4 separate regions of the Homo sapiens genome follow, and all the other regions are linked to region 2. Evidence: fine-mapped expression QTL. A gene starts in region 2. Each other region holds a variant in brackets. All regions are shown on one strand. Distances are from middle to middle.

The links. PIP is the estimated chance that this variant, and not a neighbour inherited with it, causes the effect.
Region 1: its variant is fine-mapped to the expression of PLEKHA6 in whole blood (TOPMed, PIP 0.96).
Region 3: its variant is fine-mapped to the expression of PLEKHA6 in lung (TOPMed, PIP above 0.99). The same link has a PIP of 0.9 or more in gastroesophageal junction and spleen.
Region 4: its variant is fine-mapped to the expression of PLEKHA6 in cerebral cortex (GTEx, PIP 0.99).

Annotation. Positions count from the first base shown.
Region 1 is chr1:204,395,054-204,402,934 of GRCh38, reverse strand. It overlaps a transcript of PPP1R15B not described here. Among named protein-coding and RNA genes, the nearest start is that of PPP1R15B, 13 kb to the left of the region's middle. The variant A/C (reference allele first, on the strand shown) is at 2,188.
Region 2 is chr1:204,355,539-204,363,456 of GRCh38, reverse strand. PLEKHA6 (pleckstrin homology domain containing A6) reads left to right here and starts at 3,528. Exons shown (of 23, transcript NM_014935.5): 1 at 3,528-3,763. RefSeq lists enhancers at 99-652, 3,640-4,275, 4,391-5,317, 5,318-6,245.
Region 3 is chr1:204,288,486-204,296,403 of GRCh38, reverse strand. All of the region lies in intron 1 of PLEKHA6 (pleckstrin homology domain containing A6), which reads left to right. Among named protein-coding and RNA genes, the nearest start is that of PLEKHA6, 67 kb to the left of the region's middle. RefSeq lists an enhancer at 185-1,076. The variant CTAACAG/G (reference allele first, on the strand shown) is at 3,495.
Region 4 is chr1:205,323,650-205,331,567 of GRCh38, reverse strand. No RefSeq gene overlaps it. Among named protein-coding and RNA genes, the nearest start is that of NUAK2, 5.9 kb to the right of the region's middle. The variant C/T (reference allele first, on the strand shown) is at 4,025.

The DNA.
Region 1 (7,881 bases), 39 kb before region 2:
ATGCCCGGCTAAATTTTGTATTTTTAGTAGAGATGGGGTTTCATCATGTTGGCCAGGTTGTTCTCGATCTCCTGACCTCGTGACCCTCCTGCCTCGGCCTCCCAAAGTGCTGGGATTACAGGCGTGAGCCACCGTGTCTGGCTATTTTGTGTGTTACTAATCACGATAATCATGGTATTGTAAAATCATGATGATCTCTCATTTACAAAAGTGGGCCAGGTATGGTGGCTCACGCCTGTAATTCCAGCACTTCGGGAGGCTGAGGTGGGAGGATTGCTTGAGGCCTGGAGTTCAAGACCAGCCTGAGCAACATAGTGAGACACTTTCCTCTACAAAAAAAAACAAAAAAACTGGCCCATGGTGGCGCACACCTGTGGTCCTAGCCTATAGACCCAGTTACTGGGGAGGCTGAGACAGGAGGGTTGCTTGAGCACAGAAGTTCAAGCCTGCAGTGAGCTGTGATTCCACCATTGTACTCCAGCCTGGGTGATAGACTCTGTCTCAAAAAATAAAGTCAGATGGAATCATGCTTTAATACTAGATATATGGATCATTGAGACTGTCTCAAAAGAATAAATGTTATCAGAAAAAAATTTTTACTCCGAAAAAGAAAGCATTTGGGTTATGGCAACCCTATTAATGGATGAAAGAATAATAGCACTCTTAATTCAGGCACTTTCAAGATGAAAGGATAATGAAGAAAAGTTATTAAGATATATTTCTGAACTGGAAGGAAAGAAACTAACATTTAGTTGCAGTTAAACAATATTTAGTACAAACTGAGTTGACATCCCCGGGTTATAATTTTATTTCTATCTTGGGGTTAATTGAAGCATGTCTGCCATTCCCCAGTAATATATGTGAAAATGGCTACATTTACATTAAGCCAGATTTATTGCTATGCTTATCCTGATATTTCATAGAAATTGTGTTATTTTTCTTTTGTACTTTAGTAGAAAGTTAAAAGCAAATATTTAATTGCTGACCTCAGAATTTCTTGTTTTTTTGAGATGGTCTTGCTCTGTCCTCCAGGCTGCAGTGCATTGGTGCGATCTTGGCTCACTGTAGCCTCAACAGCCTCAACCTCCCAGGCTCAAGCGATTCTCCCACCTCAGCCTTCTGAGTAGCTGGGACTCCAGGTGCACACCACCGCACTCAGCTAATTTTTCTGTTTTTTGTAGAGATGGGGTTTTGCCATGTTGTCCAGGCTGAGACCTCAGAAATTTAGATAGTTACTCAGATTTGGGAATTTGGTGTTCTCTGGCATATTGTCATTTGGAGACTTCATTTGGACTCTATTCTCTGTACCTTTTTAAAATAAAAATGGGAAATTTTCATTTTTTTCTCATAATGCACGTTGTTTATAAAAGCATCTAATACAGAGATGTACAAAGACATTTTTGGTACATTAAAAAATAATGCTTCCCAGGGTACCTTTCTGAGCTGAGAGACTTAATTTCCTTTTATCTGTAAAAAGAGGTTTTGAGAGTTATTTAATGATACACAGGTTAGCTATTTGGAATCTTTCCTTATGAACTTAGTTGAATGTTTTGTGATCAACACAAAACACCAATCTTTTCCTTCCTGGATGTGCTCCAGCGAGACTTAAGTCTGTGTTGGCAGCATGCTATTGAGATCTATAATAATCGGTATCATAAAGAGGATACGTAAATCTCTTCTAACCCTGCTGACTTTGAGGATTCATCAAGCAGGACCTATGATGCTTTCAACCAATATGTTTCAGTGACAGGTTTGACATCAGGGAATTTAAAGAGAACTAACTCATTCTACACATGGAACGGAGAAGGCAGTTGAGAGTAGGAGTTATGTATTACCATGTAAGCAATTTGAGTTACATCAGTGTTTCACCACTGGCAGACGCCTTAATCTTATCAGAGAGAGACAGGGGAAACTAGGTTTGTGGAAAGTAGGTTGCTTGACCCATGGGGAGGATACCCTAGAGATCTAATGAGCCTGAGAGCCGCAAGGCCTGGAAAGCTGTACAACAAGGGAAGCAGCTTTGGAACAATTTTTCAGGTTTTGTTCTTGTAATCTTTTATACTTCCCCCTTTATCTCAGTAATATCCTTTATGTTTCCTCCTGCCTTTATTTGCTGAATATTTTATTTTCACTACTGTTTTATAGATCCCTACCAAGAAGAAGGATGAAGAACTTAATAGCAAAAGA[A/C]GAGCACAATTGCCAGAGATGCGAGAAGAAAGGACCTCACACGGTTCTTGACTTTTCTACAGAGCTCACTGCACATTTTCCCACTAAAATGTTGGGTAAATATTTATACTTAAGATTGGATTGGCCAGGGGTGGTGGCTCATGCCTGTAATCCCAGCACTTTGGGAGGCCAAGGTGGGAGGATCTCTTGAGCCCAGGAGTTCAAGACCAGTGTGGGCAACATGGCAAAACCATCTCTACAAAAAATACAAAAAAAAAAAAAGAAAAAGAAATTAGCTGGGCAAGGTAGTGCATGCCTGTAGTCCCACCTACTTGGGAGGCTGAGTTGGGAGCTGTGATTGAATCACTGCACTGCAGCCTGCACGACAAAGTGAGACCCTGTCTCAAAAATGTTGAAAATAAAAAAGATGGATTAACTTTCAGAAACATTCCAAGGATATTCAGGGTCAAAGAAAGAGGTGATAGTAAATGCTGCTTTGAGTTAAGCCTTCTTTTCTTTTTTTTTTTTTTTTGAGACAGTGTCTCACTGTCACCCAGGCTCTGAAGTACAGTGGCATGATCACAGCTCACTGCAGCCTCGACTTCCCAGGCTTAGGCAATCCTCCTATCTCAGCCTCTCGAGTAGCTGGGACCATAGGTGTGCACCACTTTGCTCACCTATTTTTTGTAGAGACAGGGTCTCACTATGTTGCCCGGGCTGGTCTCAAACTACTGAACTCAAGCAAGTAGCCCACCTTGGCCTCCCAAAGTGCTGGGATTACAGGCATGAGTCGTCAGGTCCAGCCATACCTCCTTTTCTTAATGGGCTCTGAAGGCAAAAACCAGAGGAGTCCCAGGGGTTTTGAAAAAGACTTATCTGGATATATGTTCTGAAGTGGGTGTTTTTAAGACCGCATTTTATCATGAAAGACTAGTTCCTCTTTGGATCTCAAATAATCACCTCAAAGAGCCCTCTGATCACTCTATCCCCCAACCCCTCCTTTTTCTCTCACAGTACCTTTTAAAATTATGTTCACTCTGCCCTCATCTTGTTAACATTTTTACTTGTTTCTCATCTACCACCACCCTCACTAGTCTGTAAACTCCATGAGAACAGGGATCTTGTCGTTTATGAGTCCAGAGCCTAGAACTGTGTCTGGTATGCTATAGTCAATAAATATTTGTTGAATAACAACTTTTTTTTTTTTTTTTGAGACAGGGTTCCACTCCCATCACCCAGACTGGAGTGCAATGGTGCAATCTTGGTGCTGAACCTCCGCCTCCCAGGCTCCAGCGATTCTCCTGCCTTAGCCTCCTAAGTAGCTGGGACTACAGGCAGATGCCATCACACCCAGCTAACTTTAATTTTTTTGTAGAGATGGGGTTTCACCATGTTGCCCAGGCTGGTCTCGAACTCTTGGGCTCATGAGCTGCCTGCCTTGGCCTCCCAAAATGCTGGGATTATAGGCGTGAGCCACCACGCCTGGACTCTTTTTTTTAATATATATAAATAGAGATGGGGTCTGGCTATGTTGCCCATATAGCAACTCCTGGCCTCAAGCAGTCCTCCTGCCTTGGCCTCCCAAAGTGCTGGGATTACATGTGTGAGCCACTGGGCCTGGCCAAGTTAATAGCTTTCCCAAAGTCACCTCTCTTATCAGCTTTATTGAAGTTTCATCCACACAGCCTTGTCTGACCAGAAACAAGTGTGCCACAATCATCAGATGATGTAGAATCACAGAATTTAAATGTCCTTAGAGAAAAGCTACCGTAAGCTTTAACTAAATTTGTAGAAAGTAATTACAAATTTCAATTTGGCTAGGTATACCACATCCATTAATTCTAGTGTCATTATTAATATAAGACACATTGTTAATTTATGAATTTAATATGCGAGCAAATCAACTGAGACCCTCCTTTCCCAGAATTAATAGGCTGCATTGGAGTACCAGAGTATTCTTGCCACCACACCAGGGGTTTTAGCTCTTTGGCAGAAGATTGGCTTTGGGTTTCTAGTGATGCTCTGTTGTCTCCACCAGATGGCGTTATCTTCCATCTGGGAGTGCCTGATGGACACCTGTTATTACAGATCTGGTTGCTATTGCTCCCCTGGAGGTGGGTCCCTCAATGTGTAAACAAGCTGGAAAACTGCCCTGCCCTGCCCATTCCAGGCCTGCCTGGCCCAGTGTGACTCCACCTTTTTGTGGTAATTACCCAGAAGTAGGGGCTCTTTCTTATAGGAGAACCAAGATTTGTATTTGAACACAAACAAAGGAACTGATTTTTTTTTTGAGTCTTGCTGTCGCCCAGGCCTAGGCTGGAGTACAGTGGCACGGTCATAGCTCACTGCAGCCTCCAACTTTTGGGCTTAAACAATCCTCCCACCTCAGCCTCCCAAGTAGCTAGGACCACAGGCATGCACCACATTGCCTGGCTAATTTTATTATTTTTGTGTGTAGAGATGGGGTCTAATTATATTGCCTAGGCTGGTCTCAAACTCCTGGCTTCAAGAGATCCTACTGCCTGGGGCTCCCAAAGTGTCGCGATTACAGGCATGAGCCACCTCACTTGGCCCTTGTATACTTTTTTATCACTGTTCAAGTCACATTGAATTTTAATTGTGATTTGCTCTTTCCTTTCTTCCTCTGTGGTGGAAGGGTCTGCGCAGTGACCAGAGTATTTTAGACACATGATACACTTTTCTTTAACTCAAGTGGTAATTTCCATAGCCTCTTTTTTCCAACACACAGGCTCCCTCCCGACATAACAAGTAATTTATGAATTCATTTCAAAGAAGCAATTTTGTATGTGAAAAGGTCTATCTTCAATGTTTACATTATTTTGTATTTGTAGTATTTGATTTTTTTTTTTTTGAAAAGCTAGCATTATTAGTGATGACCTGAAACCCAAAGTTTTAAATCAGTTGATGTAAGGTCGTCATGACTACTCTTTCCAGTGGTAGCCTAAGGTTCGCTGAAACATTGTCATCGTTATGAAAGGCACTTCATTATGCAGGATACCATTCATATCCAGTTTTCTAAGATGGTTGAGGACATTGTTTTTTAAACTTTTCTGTTTTTTAAATTGACAAAAATTGTATATGTTTACTGTCTACAACATGATGTTTTGAAATATGTGTACATTGTGGAATGGTAAGTCAAGCTAATTAACATGTATTACCTCACATACTTAGCATTTTTTTTGTGGTAAGAACCCTTAAAATCTACTCTTAGCAATTTCCTTTTTCTATTTATTTATTTATTTGAGACAAGCTGGAGTGCAGTGGTGCAATTTCGCCTCACTGTAACCTCCGCGTCCTGGGCTCAAGCAATTCTCATGTCTCAGCCTCCCAAGTAGCTGGGACTACAGGCGCGTGCCACCACACCCGGCTAATTTTTTGTATTTTAGTAGAGACAGGTTTCACCCCATGTTGCCCAGGGTGGTCTCGTACTCCTGAGCTCAGGTGATCTGCCTGCCTTGGCCTTCCAAAGTGCTGGGATTACAGGCGTGAGCCATCACGCCTGGGCTTTTTATTTATTTATTTTATTTTATTTTATTATTTATTTATGTATTTATTTATTTTGAGACAGAACCTTGCTCTGTTGCCAAGCTGGAGTGCAGTGGCATGATCATGGCTTTCTTCAGCCTCAACCTCCTGGGCTCAGGCAATCCTCTTGCCTCAGTTTCCCGAGTAGCTGGGACCACAGGCTCACACCACCACAACAGGCTAATTTTTAAGTTATCTGTAGGGGCGAGATCTCCCTATATTGCCCAGGCTGGTCTTGAAGTCCTAGGCTTAAGTGTTCCTCCTGCCTCCCAAAGTGTTGAGATTACAGGTGTGAGCCACCTCACCTGGCCAATTTGCAAGAATATAATACATTGTTATTGACTATGGTCACCATGTCGTACAGTAGATCTCTTGAACTTATTCCTCCTCACTGAAAGTTTGTATCCTTTGAGCAACGTCTCCCCAACCCACTTCTTGTTTTTTATTAACTTATTAAAGTATAATTTACAATAAGTTTCACTCATTTTAAGTATGAATTCAATGAGTTTTGATAAACACGTGTAGTCATATAAACACCACCACTATCAAAATATGGATCATTTCCATCACCCAGAAAGTTCCCTTATGTTCTTTTGTATTCGGTCCCCTTCCCAACCTCCAGCTTTTGGCAGCCATTGCTTTTCTTTTCTTTGTCTTTTTTTTTTTTTTTGACAGACAGGGTCTTACTGTCACCCAGGCTGGAGTGTAGTGGTGTGATCACGGCTCACTGCAGCCTTATCTCCCTGGGTTCAGGTGATCCTCCCACCTCAGCCTCCTGAGTAGCTGGGACTACAGCTGTGTGCGACCACACCCAGCTGGTTTTTTGTTTTTTTTTTTTTGTTTTTGTTTTTGCTTTTTTTTTTTTTTTTGTATTTTTAGTAGAGATAAGGTTTTGGCATGTTGCCCAGGCTAGTCTTGAACTTCTGGGCTCAAGAGATCTGCCTGTTTTGGCCTCCCAACATGCTGGGATTGCAGGTGTGAGCCACCACGTCTGGCCTTTGATCTGCTTTCAACACTTTTAGCTCTTCTAGAATTTCAGAAAAATGGTATCGGATGTACAGCATGGACCCTTCTGTGGTGGGCTTCTTTACTGTAATGCTTTTGAGATTCATCTGTGCTGTTGAGTGTCTCTGCAGTCCATTCCTTCTGTTGAGTGTATCAGTAGTCCATTCCTTTTCATGGCTGAGTAGTATTTCATTGTATAATTATACCACTATTTGTTCATTTACTAGATAATAAACAGTTGGCTTGTTTAAGTATGAATTCAATGAGTTTTGATAAATATGTGTAGTTATATAAACATGACTACATATATAAACATATAAACATATACATATATAAGCACATATAAATTTGTGTCTATTATGAATAAAGCTTCTATGAACTGTTGAGTACAAGCGTTTGAGTGGACATATGATTTCATTGCTTTTTGATAAATCCAGGAGTGAGACTGCTGGATCATATGGTAAGTATATATCTAATTATATAAGAAACTCCCAAACAGTTTTCCAAAGTGGCTATACTACTTGGCAGCAGCGTATGAGCTCCAGTTGCTCCACATCCTTGCCAACACTTGATATTGTAAGTCTTTTTAAGTTTAGCTATTCTAGTGGCATCTTATTTTGGTGTAAATTTGCATTTCCTTGGTGTTTAATGATATGGAGCATCTTTCCACATGTTTATTTGCATTGATAAATACCTTCTTCAGTCAAGTGTCTGTTCAAATCTTTTGTCCTTTTTTTTAAGCCAAATTGTTAGTATTTATATGGATTTGTGTATGTGTGTGTGTCTTTAAAAACATATTCTAGATATAAGTCCTTTATATTTTGCAAATATTTCTCCCAGTCTGTGGCTTGCCTTTTTATTTTTTAAATTATGTAATTTGGGGAGCAGAATTTTTTTAATTTTGCAGAAGTTCAGTTTATCAATTTTTTCTTCTATGGTCCATGCTTTTCCAAAGGTCTTAGAAGTTTTTCCCTAACAAAGTCATGAATATTTTTGTTTATGTTTACTTCTAGAAGTTTTGTAGTTTTAGCTCTGACATTTAAGTCTTGTCATTCACTCTGAGTTAACCTTTGTATGTGTTATGAGGGCAAGGGTTAAGCTTCATATTTTTGCACATGGATATTCAATTGTTGAAAAGACTATCCTTTCTCCATTGAGTAATTT
Region 2 (7,918 bases):
CGGCTCCTCCACCGAGGGAACCCCACCCAGCCGTTGGTCTTCCTTGTTCTGTTCTGGAAGCTTCCTCCAGGAAGGTGCGAGAATGTGCAGGCAGGCAGTCCACCCACGGCCCTGGCGCGCCTACGGGCTGCTCAGCGCTTCTTGAGGGGTTGCAGGGAGGCAGAGATCAGAAGCCCAGGTCTCTGCCCCGCGTGCTTCCAGGCTGGGCAGTGAGACCCCGGTGAGCCTCCAAGGCTGTGCTGGGTCTCTGGGATTCATCAGTACAGACCCCAACCCGAACTGCGAGACCCCGGAGGAGGGGCCCTGGGAGGGGCGGGGGAGCCACCAAAAGCAGTTCTGTTGTCTCCAGAAGGCAGACAGGACAGAGCACAGGAGTGCTGGGGCAGCAGTTCTGGTACAGTGACCCCACTAGCTCTAGGCTTAGAAAGGCAGATAACACCCCAGAACAGTAAAGAAGGAGGCGGCCGAGGAGAAAAGGTAGTGAATGTGCTGGGCTTCAAAGAAGCCCATTTGCAGGTGAGGAAAACAGGCTGGATAGTCAAGTAATTTGTTCAGTCAGTGAGTTACTCAGGGATGGAGCTGGGCTTCCAAGTCACACAGGTTATCGTTAGCCAGGCATGGTGGCTCACACCTGTAAGTCCCAGCAACTCAGTAGGCTGAGGCAGGAGGATTGCTTGAGCCTGGGAGATGGAGACCAATCTGGGCAACATAGCAAGACTCTGTCTGTAAAACAAACTAAAAAATTAGCTGCATGTGGTGGTGTGTACCTGCAGTACCAGCTACTTGGGAGGCTGAGGAGGGAGGATTGCTAAAGCCCAGGTAGAGGTGGAGGCTGCAGTGAGCTAGTTCATCCCACGGAGCTCCCTTTGCTGCCCCTAGTTGGCATGTTCTGCGAGGAAGAGAGACCCATGTGGATGCAGTTCCACTGAATGGGCAGTGAGCCAGTCAAGTTAGTGGCCACCAAGACTGTATGGTAGGGAGTGGGGATGGCACCAGAAAGGTGGGGAGGACCCGTGTGTTTGGAGACCATGAGTAGGTGCCTGGGAAGCTTGGACTTGATCCTCTGAGCAATGGGGACCAGTGATTGTAGAGCAGAGGAGAGACGGGATCGCAGAGGTGCTTTCTGTGGAATCCTCCCTCCCTCACGCCACCTCACGCCTTCCCCATTGGAGTTGTTTAGGTGAGGCTTGCTTCTCCTCTTCTGGGCTCGCAGAGCAAGAACTTAGATTTGGCAAAGGGAATTTATTATCTCTGGTCCATCCGCCTCACCTGTCCTTGCTGTAGCTCTAAGATCTTCATGCTACCACATCTCTTCCGCCTTGGTCCCCCAGCTAAAGGCATGCACCCCACACCGACCCTCCCTTTGGCTTCTCATGCCCCTGAAGCTACTCAGATCCCCCAGAAACATTCACATGTCTGGCTCAGGCTTCTCGAAGGATCCGTGGGACTCGTCTGCGGCCCTTGCCCTCTGCCTGCCAGAGAGGAAACCCGCCCAGCAGGCCCATCTGTTGGTCGCCTGCCTTTTCCAGCTGCCTGAGGATTGTGGGGGCTTGGGCTGGGGTCTCTGTCCCCCTCCCCGGCCTCCCTCTGGGATGCTGTAATCTCTTGCCTCCACTCCTTTCCTCCACTGGCTCCGCAGGGTCAGAGACCCCCAAGAGCCCCTCATCTTGGCTGACTGAAAGCAGACTCTCCCCCTGCCTGCACCTGGCAGCCTTGCCAAGTCCTGGAGAGCCAGGGCAGGTGAGTTGGGCTTGATCGGTCCTGCCTGGCACTGGGCCCTCATCCACAACTTGTCTGCCCCTTCAGCAGAGCAGCTTTCCTATAGCCAATGCAGGGCTGGCCTGACATCTCAGCTGGGCAGGGGAACAGTGGGAGGTGACCAAGAGTCCCCCTCCCCAAGAGTGCTGCTGAGCTGCGCCTGCTGCCCTAACCCCAGATTCCTGGCTCCAGCCTGGCCTGCCCTGGGGTGGGAAAGACAGTCCCTTCAGTAGCTCTCTAGGTCCCTGTCTTCCTCCAATGCTGTGGTGTGTGTGAGTGGGGTGTGGAGCCACAGCCTTCACACCAACCAGCCAGGTTCCTCCCAGGCCCTGGGAGGGAAGTCTGTGCTCCTGTTCCTTCCGTTGCACATTCCTTTACAGATAAGGGCTTCAGTTGGTAAAAATGATATATGTACTCAGATCACACTAAGAGAGACCCACTTGTATTGGAGTCAAGAGGCTTAATTTTTTGATCAAGTTGTTCTAATAATAAACAAAAAATGCAATCACCAGGTGAGTGGGGCCTTGCAGACACCCTTTCTCTAGCTCCTGCTTCTTGACATATTTCTCTATTCAGAAGTGACTCCAGAAGCTCATCTGGTTCAGTCCCCAGTTTCCAGGTTTAAGGGGCAGATGGGACTGAGACCAGCGAGCCTGCCTGGAGGTTGAGGTGGGAATCTTTTGGTTTTTTCCATCTTTCTGATCCTGTTTATGAAATCAGTGTTTTTATTACACTTGCCCATTGTCACAGAGAATCCGTGGATAGAGGAAAACTGAGAGAGATGTGGATAAAGGGAAACTGAGGCAGAAAGCAATCTTTGTCTAAGCAGAAACAGAGCTACGACCCTATTGTCTGAAGTCCTTCCTTCTGCCTCTGATCCTGAATAATACAGAACCCAGGTACCCCGTAGCTTGGCTAGCATCCTTGCTCAGGGTTATCAAGACCGATTTGGGCAGGAGCTAGAGAAAGGGTTTCTGCAAGGCCCCACTCACCTGATAATTGCATTTTTTGTTTATTATTAGAACAACTTGATTAAAAAATTAAGCCTCTCGACTCCAATACAAGTGGGTCTGTCTTAGTGTGATCTGAGTACCTATATCATTTTTACCAACTGAAGCCCTTATCTGTAAAGGAATGTGCAACGGAAGGAACAGGAGCACAGACTTCCCTCCCAGGGCCTGGGAGGAGCCTGGCTGGTTGGTGTGGGGGCAGTGGCTCCACAACCCACTCACACCCCACTCATCCTGGCATCTCATAGTGGCCCCCAACCCTCTCCAAATGTTATTTCTCTAAATTCACCATATTGGGGGGGGGGCGGGGGATGGGGAGGCCCCAGGGCCCCAGCCAAGCCCTCTTGACACCTAGAGACGTGCCCCTCTCTGGAGTAGACAGCCACAGAGGTGAAAGGTGATCACCAGGCTGGCTGGGTGAGGCCCCACACATGATTCTAAGACCCTGGGCAGTTTCTGGCTCCCTGCAGTCTCTTGTGGGGGACTCTAAAAATGCAGCTTACCCAGACGGTGGCCCTGCTCCCCTTTGGGGGGCAGCCTTCTCCTGGTGGTGGAAGGCCCAGGAGGCTGTGCTGAGCCACCCCATCCTCTCCCGGGCAGGCAGGCTGCGTGGATGGTTAGCAGCTTGTCGCTGGTGTGGATGGAGTTAAACCTTTTCGGGGACTATTTACTCCTGATCCTAAGTGACAGCTTGGGGAGGGAGAGTCACGTGGCCCTGAAATCCCCGGGGGAGCCGATGGAGCATGCCCAGCTGCCTCTGCCTGGGAAAGATGCTGGATCCTGCAGTAACCACAACAGCATCCTCTCCCTGCGCCAGGGACCTGCCAGCCGGAGAGATGACTGATTAGATCAGATTAGATCCGGAGCCCCGCTCTGCAGAAGGGGGCCCCAGGGGCGGGGGAGGAGGACCCCAGCTGGCCTGAGCTGGGGGGAGGGGTGCCTTGGGGCTCGCAGAGTTAGAGCTTTCCAGCGCGGGGATCACACCTCAGAAGCCGGTGAGTCTGTTTTCATGCATCACATAGATGAGGTGGGAGGAGGAAGGCTGGGCTCTGGTCAGGGCTGGCAGCTGCCTGTCTGCCGCGTGAGCCTGGGCTGCTTGCACTGCGGAGCACTGGCTTCCCCATCTCTCATCCTTGGCAGCCTTACTTGGGGATCATGGATGCTGAGAATGCTAATTATAGCCCTCCCTGTGCCCCCACCCCCACCTCCAGAGTCCCCTGTCAGGGCTGATGCTGTTTAAATTGATTACATTTGAATTGCATCTCCTGGATGAAGGCAGCGTTGGGGCTGGCAGCTTCCTAGGGTCCAGCAGGGGTCCCCCACGCAAGCTAGCACAGAGAGGCCAGCCCACCCTCCCTTTAATCTTGCCAGCAGGAAGGAGAGAGGGAGGGGGTCCAGGGTCAGGCTCAGGTCAGCCCCAGGGACTCACCTTCCTCAGCGTGGGGAGGGGTCAGGGTGTGTATCATTCTTATGAGTCAGAGGTTGGGTCGAAGGGTGACAGAGGCTCTTGGATTCCAATTCCTAGGACGCATCTGAGCTCTGGGGGTCTCAGATTTAGTGGGGAGCTCTTGAAGGAGCTGGAGCCTGGTATGTGGTAGAGGAGGGCAGGGAATGAGGGGATGGCATTTATAATGATGGGACCAGGCTGCAGCCAGCTAAGAGCCTCGAGGTATTGTGTGAGGAGTCTGAGGAAAGGAGGACAGTTGGGGGACTGGCCAGAGAAGGGTAAGGAGGGCTACAGTGGAAGGGGAGGGAAGCGGGGCGAGACAGGAAAGTGGCGGGGGTGGGGGAGAAGGGAGAAGAAGGGAGAAGAGGCTCCTGGGAAATGCTCTTTGAGACAACAGGCCAGCCAGGGCAGGGAAGGGGGCTGTGGAGCCTGGGAGAGCAGAGATGGAGAACCGGGATAGAGGGAGAGCCATCCCCGGGGCACAGGGGTGGGGAGGGAGAGCTGCAGGAGGGTGGAAGGTGGTGGGGAGGAGGCTGGAGCTCAGAGCTGGTGTCAGAGGAGGTTGCAGCCTTCAGGGATTGGAGGCTCTTCCCAAAGCCCTGTAGACCCTTTACCCTCAATCTGATCACTTGAGTGGTGCACTCTGCTGAGGGTCTCCTGCATGGTGGGGCAGGGTCCTGGCTGGCAGGTATCTGCCTGAGCCCACTGTCTGGGCAGGTGCGGGGGCACTGCGGGCACTTGCCCTACAAATCTCCCAAATCCTGTTTTCCAGGCCACCCTGGAAGAGTATGAAACTGAGGAGGGCTCCTGTGGCTAGGACGGTTCAGTCGCCAGCTTTCACCCCCGAGCAGCTGCATTTTAGCTTCAGCAGGACATGAGCAGACCCTGCTGGTGGAGGGGAGGTGGGAGCGGCTAGGCTCTGGCCTGTCTCCAGGTTGGGGTGGCAGGAGGGGCTGAAGGCACCCCTCCTGGCACTGCCACTGGGCTTTCCTTATGGAAACAAGCGAGTTTCTGTGTCTTTGCACAAGGGCACAGAGTGCCGAGCCACAGATATGAATTATTAAAAGTCATTGGTTTTCCAATCAGCGGCGAGGTGATAAATGTGTTAGCACTGGTGTGTAATTAATCCTGGCAGGCTGCTGCACACAGGCTGCAGACAATGGGGGTCCCCACCTGCTTTTTTTTTGCTGGGCTAGGCTTCTTTTCCTCCTTCCTAGGAAGGTGATGGTGCAGGACGCCTTACACAGATAATTACTTTGAATGTGTCTGCCTGGATTATTGAGTTGGATTATTTCTGCTTGTAAATGAAATAATTACTGATCCCTCAGTCAGTGAGGGAGGCAGCCACCTTGGCTCCCGGGCTGACATCAGAGCCCCCACCTCGCCCAGACCCAGCCTGCAGCCTCGGGCTCATAGAGCGAGCTCTCTTGGCCCAGGGGACTGGCCTAGGCCAGAGTGAAGAAGCCGCAACAGCAGATGGGAGCGTGGTGTCAACTGGTGCTGAACAGGCTGCGGTTCCGTTCTCCGAGCCAATTTCCTCATCGTCTTCCTCACTGCCTGTTGTGAATTTGATGAGGTCATTGGCACTGGTCTTGGCGCACCCATGGGGCCCCCCAGAGGAAGGTTGGAGCTGTGCCTCACAAAAGAGCTGCAGGATTCGCACTCCCCTGAGCTCTGGGGTGAGGCGAACGGGCTCAGGAAGCCAGGGCTTAATGAGGGGACTTGAGCAGGCCAGTCTCCAAACACTTAAAGCACATTCAGAGAGGAAAAAAAGACTATATTTTGGGAGACATTTAGAGTAACTGGGAGCAGAAGGAAAAGAAGTTGAGGGTAGGCTGAGTGGAAGCCTTCCCTTGACCATCTGTCTGTTCAGGGGGCTCCTGCTCAGCACCTACAACCTTCAGACGCCCCTCAGAGACTATCTAGTCCAGACTCCCTCCACATCCAGATGAGCCTTCCTCAGCCTCCCTGACAGAAGCAGCAGCCTCACTTGGATAATTTCAGTGACAGGGAGCTCATTACCTCACAAGGCAGCTTCCTCTGTGGCTGGAACATTCTTCTATGTTGAATCAAAATCTGCCGACTTCTAAGTTCCACCCTCTGGTTCTGATTCTTTGAAGCTGTGCAGAACAAGTCACCTCTCTCTTTTACGTGGTCATAAAAATAGTTTTCTTTTGATTAAAATAGTATATAATAGTCCGTGTGTGGATGTAATATATTTTACATGATCATTTCTATATTGGACATTTAGGTTGTTACCTTATTTTCCTTTTACAGATAGCACAAGAGGAACATTTTTGTTCATAAGGCTCTTTCTGTGTTTTGGGTGACTTAGGATAAATTCCAAGGCATAGAATTAATGTGATGAAGGGTGTACATTAAAAGAATTACTATTCTGTGAGTGTAAAAGTAATACATTGTCATTTAAAAATGTAGAAAAACCTAAAGCAAAGTTAAGAATTACCCATAGGTTTGATATATAATTTTAATTTTGGTATACTTGTACTTTTATGAATTCATGCATGAGTGTATGTCTAGATTATCACAATACATATATATCATTAAAATTTTGGCCCAGATGTGTATTATTGTCACTTAAACAGAAAGCATTTTTTCATATTATTAAATATTCTTTAACAGCATTATTATTATTATTAATATTATTATTATTATTTGAGACAGGGCCTTGTTCTGTTGTCCAGGCTGGAGTGCTGTGGTACAATCTCTGCTCACTGCAGTCTCAACCTCCTAGGCTCAAGCGATCCTCCTACCTCAGCCTCCCAAGTGGCTGGGTCTACAGGTGCATGTCACCATACCTGGCTAATTTTATGTATTTTTGATAGAGTTGGCCACGTTGGCCAGGCTGGTCTTGAACTCCTGTGCTCAAGTGATCCACCCACGTCGGCCTCCCAAAGTGCTGGGATTACAGGCGTGAACCACCACACCTGGCCTTTACAGCATCATTTTAAAGTGGCTGTCTCATATTTCATTATATACCTTTTCAATTTATTTGTTGATTTGGCCCCTATGTTAAACTAGGTATTTCCAATTTTCTACTTTTATAAACAAGGCTACAATGAACATATAAATATCTGAATCTTCACACATATCAATACTTTTTTCCCTTAGGTTGCATTTCTAGAAGTGAAATGGCTACATTATTAAAATATTTTGCCAAATACCTCGTTCAAAAGCACTAATTTACATTCCTCGCAGCTGTGTCTGAGAATGGATTTTTTTTGTGTGTGTGTGTGTGTGTGTGTGTGTGCCATGAGCATCAACATTGAGTATTACAACTTTTTCATGGTTTTCATTTATTGCTTCGATCCATCTGTTTGACTGGGAGTGAGACAATTTTTAAAAAGAGACTTATCAAATGTGACATTGTCCATATTAATAACAATGCAATATATAATATGTCCATGTAATAAACATATTTGTGTGTTCGAGTCTTTGGCTTTTCTTAAAAGGCAGTGTGTGCAGAGTCATTAAGATCACAGTTGGCCAGGAATAGTGGCTCATGCCTGTAATCCCAGCACTTTGGGAGGCCGAAGCGGGTGGATTACTTGAAGCCAGAAGTTTGAGACCAGCCTGGTCAACATGGTGAAACCCCATCTCTGTTAAAAATATAAAAATTAGCTAAGTGTGGTGCTGGCTTCCTGTAATCCCACGTACCTGGGAGGCTGAGGCAGGAGAATCCATT
Region 3 (7,918 bases), 67 kb after region 2:
TCACATGTGTTGGAGAGGAATTGAATTCCAAGATGTGGGGGCTTTAATTCATGCTCTCTACCATTAAAAAAAAAAATCAGGCAAAGCACTGTGTGAGAGGAAAGAGAAATAGTGCTGAGACGGGAACCAGGAGGCCACGAAACACACGCATGTGAGTGTGCACCAGTGTTCAGAAATCCACATGGGGAGGAGGATGCACTTGCACTGGCCCCTTCCAAGGCCATATCTAACACACAAATTTGTACCTATAGTCTTTTCCTTAATGAGGACCACGCCCCTCCCACCACAAATTGTATAAGCTCCAGGACCCCAGAAACCCAGATCTGTTGCTGCATCCACGACACTGACACATATGCCCTTCCTTGGTCCCCTGCCTGCACGTCATGAAGCCCCTTCCTCTGTGTGCGTGCACCCCGTAGCTTCTGTGCCTTACCCTCATCTTCCCACGTGTGTTTGTGCGGTTTGGAGCTTCTTGAGTTTCCGTTTATAGTTAGAAAATTGCCCTGCTCTGGCTCTGGCTTTGTCACAGGAGGCTCGTGTTGGCTCAGTCTGACTGCTGCTTGACCTTTGGCCACCCTGCCCTTGGCTTGGCCTGCTGTGGCCACCTAGAAGCATAATCTGTTGGTTTGTTTTCCTTCTCGGGCTGTGGGTCCTCCCCAGCTGAATCTAAGCCTCTAAAATGGGGTGAGGGTTTCAGATGAGCAGGCAGCCTTTGGAAGGAGCGCTTCCCTGAAGAACCGAAGGTGCTCAGGATGAGCAGCTCTTTTGTCCTATAATTTGCTCTAGGGGCAATGAGATTCCCTTTCTCAGGTCTAGTGGGCCCCAAGAGAACAAGGACTTGCTACACACCTTATGCAGCTGGATAGCAGCATAAGCACTAGAATTTTTTTTTTGTTGTTTGTTTTTTTTTTTTTGAGATGGCATCTCCCTCTGTCACCCAGGCTAGAGTGCAATAGCATGACCTCAGCTCACTGCAACCTCCGCCTCCCGGATTCAAGCGATCCTCTTGCCTCAGCCTCCCGAGTAGCTGGGACTACAGGCGTGTGCCACCACACCTGGTTACTTTTTGTATTTTTAGTAGAAACAGGGTTTCATTATGTTGGCCAGGCTGTACTTGAACTCCAGACCTCAGGAAATCCACCCACCTTGGCCTCCCAAAGTGCTGGGATTATGGGCATGAGCCAATGCGCCTGGCCTAGAACTGGGTCTTCTTAGTCAATTATTTCTGTCCAGTAATGTTGACCCTTAGAATGGACTGCTTTCAACCATGACACACACACAAAAGCCCACCTCCCAGTTCAAATTACACTAGGAACAGACCTCCCTCACATTTGAGATTCTCAGGTGTTAATTGTTCTGGCTCCTAAGTACAGGGGAGAGGGTACTATCTTGATGGATAACTTCTTTAGGAACAAATTATTAAGCATCCATCTGTAGGTGTCAAAGTGGTGAGGGGTTTTATAATCAAAATTGAGCCACTGTCTCCTAAGGATAAATAGCCCAAGGCAGATGCAGACAGATAATAATGATTATTAGCATTTATTGAACATTTACTAAGTGCCAGAACCTTTCATAAATTTTTTGTGGGTATAATCTTATTTACTCCTGTGACGAACCCATGAAGAAGGTCCGTATATTATCCCGTTTTCACAGATGGGGGAATGAAAGCACAGAGAGGTTAAGTTTCTCACCCAGAGTCCCTTAGGTAGTAACTGGTGGAGCCGGGATTGGAACTGGGGCAGTCTGACTCCAGAGCCAAAAATCTCAAGGCTAATGCGGATTCAACTCAATAAAAATAAACGAAAGGATTAGCTGGTAGGATGATGCATGAGAAGGGAATTTCAAGTTGCACAACTAACATAAAGTGGGAAGAAAGCTGGCTTTGGGCTGTGTCCTGGGCTCTAATCCCAGTTCTCTCACTTCCTAACTGTGTAGCCTTGGGCTAATAACCTGACCTCTCAGGTTCTTCCTCCGCAACAGCAGGACAGCAATACCTATCTCTGGGGGTTAAGCAGAGAATTCGCTAGCATCATGACTTGGATAGGTGTTAATTTCCTTTTTCTTTCTGTGCTAGTTGTCAAGTTTTCCTGGGAGGGTGAAGGGTAATTTGGGAATTCAAGGTTAATTCTTATTTCAAGAAGAAATGTCCAACCAGCCCTCCAGTACCCTATCTTCTGGACAAGATTTTCTGCCATCACCACTTCCTCCGTATCCTCCTGGGATGGCCTGGAATTGGAGGAGAGACAGGCTGGAGAGAGAGAAGGGTGTTTGGCTTAATGCAGCTGTCAAGCAGCTGTCACGCTCTGGCCACTCTTTCTTCATCTTCTCTTTTTCCTTTTAAAAACAAGGACATTCTCTTGCATAACCACAGTACAATTAACAGACTCAGGAAACTTAATAACATCGATACAATTCTATTATCTAATATACAGTCCATATTGAAATTTCACCAGTTGTCCTAATAATGTCATTAGAATCCAATTCAGGATCATGTCTCTTTCCTCTCAGTCTGGAAAGTCCCTCAGCCTTTCTCCATGTTCATGCATTGAAGTTTTCTTAAAGAGCACAGGATCCTCTCTGGGACTTCCTGAGCCTTGTCCCGTCTTTCCTCATCCCTGAGCAGGGCTGACTAGAGTAAGGCGATTAATACACTCCCCTTAGGTACAAAATGTCTTACATTTTGCCAAATGGGTGCCAAAAAACTCGGTAGTCAAGATAAATAACATTTCAATGCAATAATTTTAAAATCAAAATCAATGCAAACATTTCATGAAGAACAAAATAGTAACATTCGAAATAAAGACAGGATCTAAAACAGTGCCACTTTAAGCCAAATTGGAGGCTGAGGCAAAAGGGAAATTCCAGTGATACTGGTCCTGTCTTTATTTGAAATGTTGGTATTTCATTCATCATGGGTTTTTAATGTTAATTTTTATTTCAAAAATATCGCGTTAAAATAAGTCTTGATTGGCCGGGTGCAGTGGCTCATGCTTGTAATCCCAGCACTTTGGGAGGCCAAGGCGGGCGGATCACCTGAGGCCAGGAGTTCGAGATCAGCCTGGCCAGCATGGTGAAACCGTATCTCTACTGAAAATACAAAAATTAACTGGGTGTGGTGGCACATGCCTGTAGTCCCAGCTACTTGGGAGGCTGAGGCAGGATAATCGCTTGAACTTGGGAGGCAGAGGTTGCAATGAGCCAAGATCGCGCCACTGCACTGCAGCCTGGGTGACAGAGCAAGACTCCATCTCAAAGAAAAAAAAAAAGTCTGATTACTGAGTTTTTGGATGCCCCTTAAACTTTGTGCTCCCTCCCCCACTCCCACAGTGTGGGCTTGCTCCCTCTCCCAGTCATCCCACCCTCAGAACAAGTTGGGGGAGAGAGGTGGGGCTCCATGCCAGGAGGAGGAAGGTTAGGGTACAGAGAAGAGGCGGGAGGGGAGGGGTACAGAGGCCTGGAACGCAGCCGTGTGTCTGGCCGGGAGCTCTCTAACA[CTAACAG/G]CTTCCAGCTGCTTCCACAACCTCCAGACTTCCGCCTTGGGAGTGGCATTTGGTTGTTTTTTATTCCCCCTCTTCACATCAAATGTGTGATCTAATTAGACTTTGCATCCCTCATTTCTATCAGTCTTCCCTGTCTTGCAGTGCTCCCCTTAGTTGACCTGTCCTGACCCTGTTTCCATCCATCCCAGGAGCCTCTCAGGTGCTGCCACTGGCATGCTCCAGGAGCATCCACCCAGTGCTGGGTGAGCACCACAAAGACCAAGCCAGGGCAAGAGACACAGGTAGGCGTCAGCCAGGGTGAGGGAAATGGGGGGCATCAGCCAGGGCGAGGGACACAGGTGGGCATCAGCCAGGGTGAGGGACATAGGTGGGCGTCAGCCAGGGTGAGGGACACAGGTGGGTATCAGCCAGGGTGAGGGACATAGTGCCCGGGTGAGGGACATAGGTGGGCATCAGCCAGGTCGGGGCAGCTCCTTGTGGCCCTGAGGAAAGAGCTTCGGACTGAGGTTAACAGACCCCGAGGTTAGCCTTGCCTCAGGTATATGAGGTGGGTTATCTCAGCCAACACTTCCAGCTTCAGGGATTTTGTTTTGTAAAATGAGGGTGGTACTAACACTTTTCTGCCCACCTCATAAGACCATAAAAGAACCAAATGAGATAATGATGACAGTGCTTTGTGAACCGTAAAGGATTTTATTTGATATTTTCCCTTCTGTCATAGAACAAATAATCCTTTATTTTGATGAAGACCGTATTCAGGTCTGCTACATTATTTGATCTAAATCCATGAGAAGAGTAAAGGCGGATTCAGGACACATGTTCATCTCTGCCTGTAACCAGCATTTCTGTCAGACTAAAGCAGGTCAGTAGGAAACCATACCCATTCCCACCCTCATTCCATCACCATGTGAAACAGAATGGGTGTGCCCAATAATAGCAGTCGTTGTTTTAATGTCTCAATTGAAGGCTTTTCTTTTTTATAGATTTATTGAGGTATATGATAAATTGTATATATTTAAAGGGTAAAATTAGGTGCATTTTGTGAAACCATAAACACAATTGAGATAATTAACATATATCCATCACTCCCCAGTTTCTTCCTGCCTCTTTGTAATCCCTCCCTCCACCCTGGCCCCAGGCAACCACCCGTCTGCTTTCTGTCACTATAGATTAGTTTGCATTTTTAAGAATTTTATATAATGGAATCATAAATGAATACTTTTATTTCAAGAAAGCCTGGCTCCTTTTATTCCATATAAATATTTTAAGATTCATCCATTATGCTGCATATTTCAATAATTCATTTCTTTTTATTGCTGAGTAGTACTCTGTTGTATGCATGTAACACATACGTTGTACCCAGGTTTTCATGGACATTTGAGTTGTTTGTAGTTTGGGGCTGTCACAAATAAGGCTGCTGTGAACATCTGTCTACAAGTCGTTGTGTGGACATATGCTTTCCTTTTTTTTGGGTAAATGCCTAGGAGTGAAGTCAATGGGTTGTATGGTGCATGGATGTTTAAACTCTTTAAGAAACTGGGAAACTGTTTTCTAAAGCAGGATGTACCATTTATATTCTCACCAGCAGTATATGAGCATTCCAGTTCCTCTACATTTTTGCCAGCACTTGGTATGGTTAGTCTTTTAATTTTAGCTATTCTAGTGGGTGTGGGTAGAGATAGCTCATAGTAGTTTCAATTTGCATTTCTCTAATGGCTAATGATGTTTTCTTTTCATGTACCTTATTTGACATGTGTATAACTTTGGTGTTGTTTGCTATCTTAATACTAAGTTGTGAGAGTTCTTCATAGGTTCTAGATAAAAGTCCTATGTGCGTTATATAGTTTGCAAATATTTTCTCTGTTTATGGCTTACTTTTTCATTTTCGTAACAATGTCTTTTTTTTTTTTTTTTTGAGACAGGGTCTCACTCTGTCACCCACGCTGCTATGCAGTGATGCAATCTTGGCTCACTGCAACCTCCCCCTCCTGGGTTCAAGTGATTCTCTGACTCAGCCTCCTGAGTAGCTGGGATTACAGGTGCACGCCACCATGCCTGGCTAATTTTTGTATTGTTAGTAGTGACGGGATTTCACCATGTTGGCCAGGCTGGTCTCGAACTCCTGACCTCAAGTGATCTCCCCACCTTGGCACCCGAAAGTGCTGGGATTACAGGCATGAGCCACTGCGCCTGGCCTGTAATAGTGTCTTTTGAAGAGCAAACTTAAATTCTGACAAATTTCAATTTATTGATTTTTCTTGATGGTGCGTTTTTTGTCATTTTAAAGACATCTTTGCCAAATGCAAAGTCACTAAGATTTTCTCCTGTGTTTTCTTCTAGAAACATTGTAGTTTTAGCTCTTTCATTTATGTCTATGGTCCGTTTTGAGTTAATTTTTTAATGATAGGGTCAAGGTTGTTTGTTTGTTTGTTTTCATGTGTTTTACAGCACCATGTATTGAAAAGCCTGTCATTCTCCTTTGCATTGACTTTATACCTTTGTCAAAAACCAATTGACCAAAATGTGTGGATTTATTTCTGAACTCTCTACTCTGTTCCATTTATCTATATATGTGTCTTTATGCCAACACTACATTGTCTTGATAACTGTAGCTTTATAATAAGTCTTGAAGTCAGGTAGTATAAATCCTCCAAACCTATTCTTCTTCAAAGCTTTTGAGTATTCTGGATCCTTTGAATTTCCATGTGAATGTTAGAATCAGCTTGTCAACTTTACAAAGATCTGCTAGGGTTTTGGTTGGCACTGTGTTGTATCCATAGAAAAATATGGGGAGAGTTGACAATTTAACAATATTGAGTCTCCTGATCCATGAAAACAGTATTTTTCTCCTTTTATTTGGATTTTATTTCACTTCTTTCAGCAATGTTTTATAGTTTTCAGTGTATAGGTCTTGCACATCCCTTGTCAAAAGTATCCCTTAATTTTATGCTATTATAAATGGTGTTTTAAAATTTCCTTTTTTCATTGTTTGTTGCCAGTATATAGAAATACAACTGATTTTTCTATATAGACTTTGTATCCTGAGCCTCTCCTCCCTTGCTTTGAAAATTGAATTTAAAAGAGCAGGAACCTGAAAATATCAAGGGGCAGGGCATTTGCATGACATGATAAACATTTACAATGGCTCTAAAAGCATGAGCATCTTTCTGTTCTAAGTCATAGATCATTTCAGTAGCAGCTCTACAGTAGCTGTGACTGTAAAGGATGGGAAGGAAGGGTGGTATAGTAAATTCTGACCCTACACAAGTAGAACACCTCCAGATCTCTGGGGTACTCTTGAGGGTGAATGGAGCAAGTGGGAATGCAGTGCAGCCCCTTTAAGGAACCCGGCCAGCCAGCCACCCCGCGGGCTGCTAGGAAGGCAGCCCAGGAGATAAGATAAGGCCCCCTGGCAGGTTTAAAGCAGGGTCCTGAGCCACAGTGGCTGGGCTACTGATAGGCAAACAGGAACCAGGGGTGATAAGGAGGAGGTGCCAGCTACTAAATCCGGGCTGGCAAGAGGAGGAGTAGCCAAATCACTCCTCTGGGGCCTGAAAGGAGAAGGGGCTATTAATTGTGGGTGTGTAGGGAGAGGGAACTTGTATTCTCTGTATATCCCATTTATGATCATGGTAAAAAAGAAAAATCCTACTGGGCTGTACTTAAAGGCACTCTGTTTCATATGGAGTAAATGCTCAATAAATATAGGCTTATTGAGTTCCTTATGCTCTAGTGAGATGCTCTGATATGGGGTTTAGAGACTACCTAATTTCTTCCTCAAATGAGGAAAATCCTGGCAAGGACTTACTCTCACAAGCCCGGCGCTGCTCATTTGCACACATCTGCATAGATTTGCATGTGTCCTGCTTGTAGATACTTTTAGATTTCCCCCAAATCAGTTGCCTATTTTTAAAGGATAAAGAGGGAATTTATCTCTTCTTGTTCTTGCTCACCTTCCGTCTGTATCCTCCAAAGACACTAAAATAATTTCTGCAACTTTGAACTATAAACAATAACTGTGGTTGCATAGTTTATGCAGATATGAAGCAGTTCCTTGACTGACAATGTGTTTCTCCTCTTAATCTCTATTACAATTCCTAGTGCTGCTCTCCAAACTTCTGAGTGGCGCAGAGAGACATTAAGGTAAAAAAATAAAAATAAAAACAAACCCTCTAGCTGAACAGCCAGGCTCAAATTGCTTAGAAAGCTTCAAGAATTAGTTCACTCTACCTGGACAGAGCAGTTAGAGGCAGTTCCATGGATCTGAAGACCACCTTCCCACTGCTTCCCATCCCAGGGCTAGGGATGCTGTGACTATCTTTGTCTGCTCTCCTTCCTCCAGGAATAAATAACAATATCATCCCTCCCCCAGATCCCAGTTCCTCTATTGGCCCGCCAGGCAAATATTTCATAATGTG
Region 4 (7,918 bases), 970 kb before region 2:
GGGAAGGGGAAGGGCCAGTTAGCTGCAAAATGTCTTTAGAGTTTGCGTGCTCCCCCATGGTATGATCCTTTTTATTTTAATGGTTTAATTATGGGCTGTTTCCCAAATACTCCATTCATTTTGAGCTCCCCAGGCAGGTACTTGGCTCAAAGAACCCCCAGAGGCCCTGTCTACAGATCCGACCATATCCTTGTGGAGCGTAAGCAGCCTCCCTCTAAGGATCTTCGTGAAGTCCCACCCTTCCCACCTCCCCTTCTTACCTCTGCCCAGTGCTCCCTGAATACGTCCAGCTGCTCCTCGACTCCCTGTCCTGAACAGCCTGTCCCCTCCACAAAGCAGAGCACCAAGAACCCACCATCGCCGCACAGAGGGCAAAGTGAACTTCTTTCCAAGAGTGAGCTCTTTGCAGATCCTGTGCAGCTGCTATTTCATACCAGATGAGCTTCCCGCAACTCCAGCCAGCACACCCTGGACCTGCCTGCCCCAACACACACACACACACACACACACACACACACACACACACACACACTCTCTCTCTCTCCACACTCTCCCCCTTCTTTCTTACTCTCATGCTTGCACATTCACTCATGCTCACACACACGCTCTCACACATCCCACAAATACACTCACACATGCTTATACCACAAACCGCCCACTCTTACACACTCACCTTATGGAAACACTCACATATTTACATTCACAGGATGATTCATGCTCACACGCACACCTCACATTCATGCTTCACACTCTCCTTGTACTCTTACCCCTCAAATCCACACATGCCTTACACACTTATCCTCATTTGTACGCCTCAAATAACACACCTTACACTCTTACACGTTCACACACACACCCATATGCGCTTCTACACACATGTTCATGCACATATTTTTGCTCTTACACTCACACACTCACATTCCCAGACTCACATTCTGAGCAGGCATCCAGGCTCGGAGTCCTTTAATTTGGGGGTGAGTGGCTGCAACGTTACCCAGGCCTCACCCTTCCCTCTGGAACCCCAAGCTGCAGTTTGCCATCATGGCTAGGGGAATCTTCTGCACCCTTCTAAAGATGGTGAGGTGTTTTACAGGTGAGGAAATGGAGACTCAAGAAGTCCTGTGACTTCCACAAGAGCTCCTGAGCTCCATGAAGCAGGGAACCCGGTCTTCCTCACTTACCCTCACATGCTTAGCACCTCCTGTGCCTGGCACAGAACCAGCACTTGATAAACCTGTGTCGAGTAAATGACTGGATGGCTCTCTGAGGGGAAGAACTGGGAAAGATCCTAGTGAGGGGAAGTCCCAGTTCCTAATTTAGCCAGACTGGACTCTCCTGGCTCTTGAGACAGTTTCTTTTTTTCATGCATGATCCCTCAGCCACTGCCCCCCTCCAAAAAGGAAACAGATGACTAGGAGGGTCCATGGGATGAGAGCTGGAGGCCAGAGACTCATCTGAACACTTGGTGCCTGAAGTGACATTTCAGAGTTGATGGGTTTCCAGGTGGTTGGGGAGAAATCTATCCTCCTCCCTTCAGCGTACCTGCAGCATGGACAGTGGGACAGGAAGGAGCTCCAGGGTGCCAGCTGCTGGCCTTCTGCTCTGCTTGGCTTCTCACTGGGCTGTCGGGGCTCCTCCCCTGCTTAGCCTTGGAAGGGAGCACATGGCTGTGCAAGCAGGGCTGGGAACTTCCATGGCCCCATGCACCATCTCACGGTGGCCCACCCTGCCCTCCTTACCTGAAGGACGACACAGGACCTCGGGGCACTCTGCCTGCCATTCAACAGAAAATGGGCCTTGGTCCTAATCACAGCCTAGCAATTCATAGTCTCAACACCAAACATTTGTAAGGGAACAGTAATTTACAAATCCCTTTCCCAGGCTCCCCTGTTCCATCTGTAGAAGGAGACTGGACTGGAGCTTCCCTTCCAAATTCATCTTACTCCACCCCAGACCTTCGCTCCCGGTGCCTCGGGGCAGCCAGCTCAACCCTGGGTGGCAGGTGACCTCCTTATCTTCACTCTTCTCTCCCTCACACAGCCACTAGCTTAGTCCAGACCGTCACCGTCCCTTGAGAGGACAGTTTCAGTAGCCTCCCAACTTCACTTCCCCTACCTTCAGGCTCCCCACCAGACACCCTCCACATGGCTGCTAGACTCCCTCTGTTCTTCTTGTCTACGTATCCGACCATATCCTTGTGAAGCGTAAGCAGCCTCCCTCTAAGGATCTTCATGAAGTCCCACCCTTCCCACCTCCTCTTCTTACCTCTGCCCAGTACTCCCTGAATGCGTCCAGCTGCTCCTTGACTCCCTATCCTAAGCAGCCTGTCCCCTCTGCCCGGAATGCCCCCTCAATGGTGTACCTGGCGAATCCACTGTCTCCTCACCCCACCTCATCCCCATGCACACAAAACTTTTAAGGTACTTCTCAGGACTGTAATGATATTATTAACTCTTATAGGCCCAGGGCATCACACAGAGTGCCTGGCATGCGATATCTAAATATGTAGCACACAACTGTTGAATAAAAGCTAGAAATCAAAGAGTCCAGAGGCAGCACCAGCGTTGAGGGAATCTTTAGGGTGCTCCCTTTCCCTCTGAGTTCCTCTATGGCCTGCAACTGACACAAGGAACCAGATCCAGGAAATAAGCAATATTTCAACTCCCTCTGCTTAGGGATTGAGTTCCCTCTCCCCTTGACTGTGGGCGCTCACAGGGGTGCTAGGTCAGACCTGAGCTTTTTATGAGCTGTGGGTGAGAACCAGCTGATTAACCCAGCCTTGTAGTAATAGCCCCTCAGTACCAGATTGTGCTACCGTTATTTGGGGCCAAGAGAAATGCTGGCTCCTGCCTTTCCTTGCCAAGGGCCAGGAGCTGGTGACCCGGCTAAAGAATGTGCTTTGCTTGGGGTTTACATTCCAGGATTGGCTTGGGAGGCCAAGGGCTCAGGTTGCCATTGGGAGCCAGGCACGGGGAAGGGGGGTGGCAATGGGCAGACCTTTCTCCCACCTCCCTCCTGGGCACACTTCCCATGCCCTGCCCTGCCTGGTCATTCCAAGTGGAGGCAGGGCCAGGAGGAAGACCCTCAGCCCCTTCATAGGGAGCAGCATTTAAATGGAGTGTGAAGTGGCCTAGTATCCACTGCCATAAACCCCCACCTGCTGGGGAGCCTTTAACAGCTTACAAAGTATCTCCAAGTTTGGGGTCTTCTTTGAATAATTAGGAACTGAGGGCTGGGAGATCGAGTCACCTGTCCCAGGTCATGTGGCCAGCAAGCAGCAGAGTTGGGTGTAGCACCTCATCTCCTGACTTCCATTCCCAGGCTCATTATACCTCCTGCCACATCTATATCAACAGCCCCTGTACCCCAACATCTAACCAGAAGCCCCGACTTCACAGGGTCAGTGGAGAATCAATAAAATAGTGAGTGTGAAAGGGTGGACACCTGTAAAGATGGGGGGTTATTTTTCTTTACTCATCCTTTACTCAAAAAGGGTCTCAGGTGACTACAACGTAATAGAGTGAGTTAGTAGAAAGTACTTGAAGACCCATGGAGGAATCCCATGAAAATTTTCCCCAGTCGCCGGCATAGCTTCTCCACTCCCTAGCACCCACACTTCCCAACTCCACAGCAATGGAAGTGACAGATCCTCCGTGACTGGGAAAAGGACACAGGAGTGAAGGGCAGAAAAAGAGAAAAATCTCTGGTTTCGCTACTAACAATGGGGTAAGGAGACCCTTTCTAAAACACTGACTGGAAGTTCTAAACTTTATTTATTTATTTATTTATTTACTGAGACGGAGTTTCACTCTTGTTGCCCAGGCTGGAGTGCAATGGCAGGGTCTCGGCTCACTGCAACCTCCGCCTCCCAGTTTCAAGTGATTCTCCTGCCTCAGCCTCCCAAGTAGCTGGGATTACAGGTGCCTGGCTAATTTTTGTTTTTTTAGTAGAGACAGGGTTTCACCATGTTGGCCAGGCTGGTCTCGAACTCCTGACCTCAGGTGATCCGCCCAGCTCGGCCTCC[C/T]AAAGTGCTGGGATTACAGGCGTGAGCCACTGCGCCCAGTCCCTCTAGACTGCAAATCTACACATATATCCACCCCTCCACCTCCCAACTCTCAGAACAACTTCCTTCGGGTGTTCGAATCTAGCACTAAGAGTTGTTAAGAGGTCCTTTCTTTTCTCTCTCAGATCAGCTCCTTCCTCCCTCCCTTAACACAGAGGTCCAGCCTTGGGCTGTTTCAATGACCACTTCCTAGCTCTGAGCTTATCTTAACTGTCTTCTGTCCCAAATCAGGTCAGCTGGAGCTCAGGGAACTCTGATAACCCCTCGCTGTCACACACACACTAGGTGCGCGCACACACTCTTGGGTCTCTGCCGAAATTGAGGGAGGGGACTTGGGAGGACCAGAGCCCAGCAAAGCGCCAGGCAGACGGATAGGAAACCATCAGTCTGACGACCTCACTTCTAATTTCATCCCACAGCAAGCCCAGGAGGTAGTCATTTCAGATGAGGAAAGTATGACGCAGAGCAGCTTAGTCTACTTGACACTCTAGGCAAGTCAGGAATCCTCTCTAAGCCAAAGTATGAGGGCTAAGAGTGCTGTTTCTGGAGCCAGATTGGACCCCAGGCAATCTGGCTTCACCACTTGACAACTCTGTGACCCTGCATAGGCCCTTAATTGCTCTGTGTCACTTTTCTCACACGCAATGGGGATATCATAGGCTAGTATGTACTTCATAGAGTTGTAGAAAGGATTGAATTCATGAATACAGGAAATCTAAGGAACAGTGGCTGACACACAGTATGTTAGCTGCATAAAAGAATAATTCTTATTTATACATGAAGTGGTGGAGACATGAGTTATAGTCACAGTCAGTTAGTGACAGAGCAGAGCCTGAAGCCCAGGTTGCCAGACTCTTGAGCCAAAAACATTATGCCAGCCTGGGGATGCGAGACGGAATGGGGCTCCTGAATGTCCAGTACTGAAGGAATCAGTTACCAGGTGGCAAAAGAAAGCGAGTGGCTGAGATTTCTAATTTTTTTGGGTGGGGGGGACGGAGTCTTGCTCTGTTGCCCAGGCTGGAGTGCAGTGGTGCGATCTCTGCTCACTGCAAGCTCCGCCTCCCGGGTTCACGCCATTCTCCTGCCTCAGCCTCCTGACTAACTGGGACTACAGGTGCCCACCACCACGCCCGGCTAATTTTTTGTATTTTTAGTAGAGACGGAGTTTCACCATGTTAGCCAGGATGGTCTCGATCTCCTGACCTCATGATCCGCCTGCCTCGGCCTCCCAAAGTGCTGAGATTACAGGCGTGAGCCATCGCGCCCAGCCCTTGAGGTTTCTAATTTGTCCCTGCTTAGATATTGCAGAGAAGTTAAAGCAGATTTGAAACAAAACTGAGAGTTGGTTTATCCAAATCTCCTTTTACAGATAAGGAACCACCCCTAAAAGAGAAAGTCCTTGGCCATGGCATGGTGTGGGTTGGTGGTGGAAGTGGAGCTGGACCCCGGCACGCCTGCGTCCTGTCTCTCTGCGTGTGCTCTCCCTCCCATTCCAGGATGGAGACAGGGCAAGCTCTTTGGCTTGGGGAGAAGAGCTAGCTTCTCCTTCAGTCACATCCCCTCCCAGGCCTGGTCTGTGAATAACATTCGGTTTCTCAGGGTAATTGAGAGTTTGAGGGCTGTTTTCAGTGTTTGCGGCACAAATTCTCCAAACTTCCGGCAAGACATACTAGAATTTAGAATTTAGAACCAGGGCTGGCTTAATAAATGTTAGATATCATTATAGCTGTTATTGCAATTACTCAGTCCATATTTGTTGAATGAATGAATGAATGAACAAATGAACGGTTTACTGGAGGAACAAATTGCCTAAGCCGACTTCTGCTTGTGGTCACAGCTTTGGGCATCCCATAAAACATGCTAGGCTTAGTTTGGTCAGAAGAGGGCAGCTTTGAGCTAGGCTTCCCAATTTGCCAGCGACTAACAGGATTTGCATCCCTTTCTTGGAGGGGAGGTAGGGAATACTACAGGCTGTAATTCATCCTCAGGGCTCAAGACTCATCTTAGAGGTATCTGAGATCTGCCTTACCTGCTCCCAACCCTCACGTGACCCCCATGGCATGGCCTTGGTGCCTCTCACCTCTGCTCCTACCTGCACCCTGCTCCCACCAGGACACATCACAGCAGTCCACACACTGAGCTGCTTTCAAATCCCCTTTTACCAGTCTGGACCCACCTCCACTCCCCTACAGACACACACACAAATTGTGAAGTGTGTAAGGACAAGGACAGACATTTGTTCCCACTTGTTTTCCCAGCACAGCACATAGTAGATCCAATAAACAGCTTTCCCCCATGACCCCCTCAGACATGGATCAGCCATGGGACTTGGGGCTGGGGGGTAGGCGTCTCCCTTCCAGGAGTCAATAGTGGGGCAGGCAGGATTGAGAGTAGCTTAGCTCAGCCCAGATATCTCAGCACATCCACACATCCGACCACATGACCCAGGAATTCCCCAAGACTGCTGGTGGCAGAGTCCCCGACCAACACGGATTCCCTGTCAGGCACTCTCGCTTTCCCACCAACTAGACCTCCTTTAAGGAATTTGAGATATGAGTTTCAGCAGCTTAGATCATTTCCGAGTCACATGCTGTTCTGGCTCTGTGTCTTCCTTGCCTACCTGCTGTGATCTTTGGTCACCCATGGCTCCTCACCTAGATGGGAATTCAGATTGTAGTCAAAGGAAGCTGGAGCAGGGGTGAGAAGGTCCAAGAAGTTGCAGATGATTCCCTCCCGACCATGGCCAGATAGCTGGTAATGGAGTGGGCCCAATCACATGTAGGTGCTTTTAGTTTCATCTTTGGATTCCATCGCACATCCATTCCTTCAGTTCATAAGCATCTATGGAGCGACTTTTAGGTGCCTCGCAGCACACTGGGTGTTGGGGATACCTGGAAAAAATTACAGGAGTGTAGCTAGATTAAGCCTTAAAAGAAGCGTTAAGCTCATCTGTATAATTCTTTCATCTTATGAAGAAATGTTGATTCAGCTGGCCAATTGCCACTTGTCCTTCAGGTCTCAACTTAAAAAGTCCTGGCTTTAGGAACCTGCGCCTGACCAGCCTCCTCCCACCTGGGATACATATCTTAAAGAAAATCTGAGCCGGGCGCAGTGGTTTACACCTGTAATCCCAACACTTTGAGAGGCCAAGGCGGGCAGATCACCTGAGGTCAGGAGTTCAAGACCAGCCTGACCAACATGGAGAAACTCTGTCTCTACTAAAAATACAAAATTAGCCGGGTGTGGTGGCGCATGCCTGTAATCCCAGCTACTCAGGAGGCTGAGGCAGAAGAATCGCTTGAACCCGGGAGGCGGAGGCTGTGGTGAGCCGAGATCACACCACAGCACTCCAGCCTGGGCAACGAAAGCAAAACTCCGTCTCAAAAAAAAAGAAAAGGCAATCTGTTCTTCTTCCATCATGGACCCTTCTCCCTCTGTACAGGATTTACTTGTTTATTTCTCACTAGACTGAGAACATTCCAAAGGCAGGAATCTTGTCATGATTGTGTCCCCAGGCTCAGCACCTAGTGGGCACCAGTATTTGTAGAATGAAGTAATTAGTAGAAGGCCACAGAACTGGTTAGTGTCAGAGTCAGGACTCGAACTCAGGTCCCCCAACACTCGGCCCTGTGCTTGCTCTTATGTTATCCATACTTCCTTTTGAGAATTCTAATCATCTGGATGAGCCCCCAGGAATAGAAGCAGATTTCAGAGGGGAAAGGAGATAGCAAGTCAAGGCAACTATCTCTGGGCCTCATCCTATTTGCACAGAAAACCCACAGCAAAAGGGGAGGCTGGTGGAGGGAAGAATGCCAAACCAGCTGCCACCTCCTGTGGCCCTCCAAATTTGGGAGC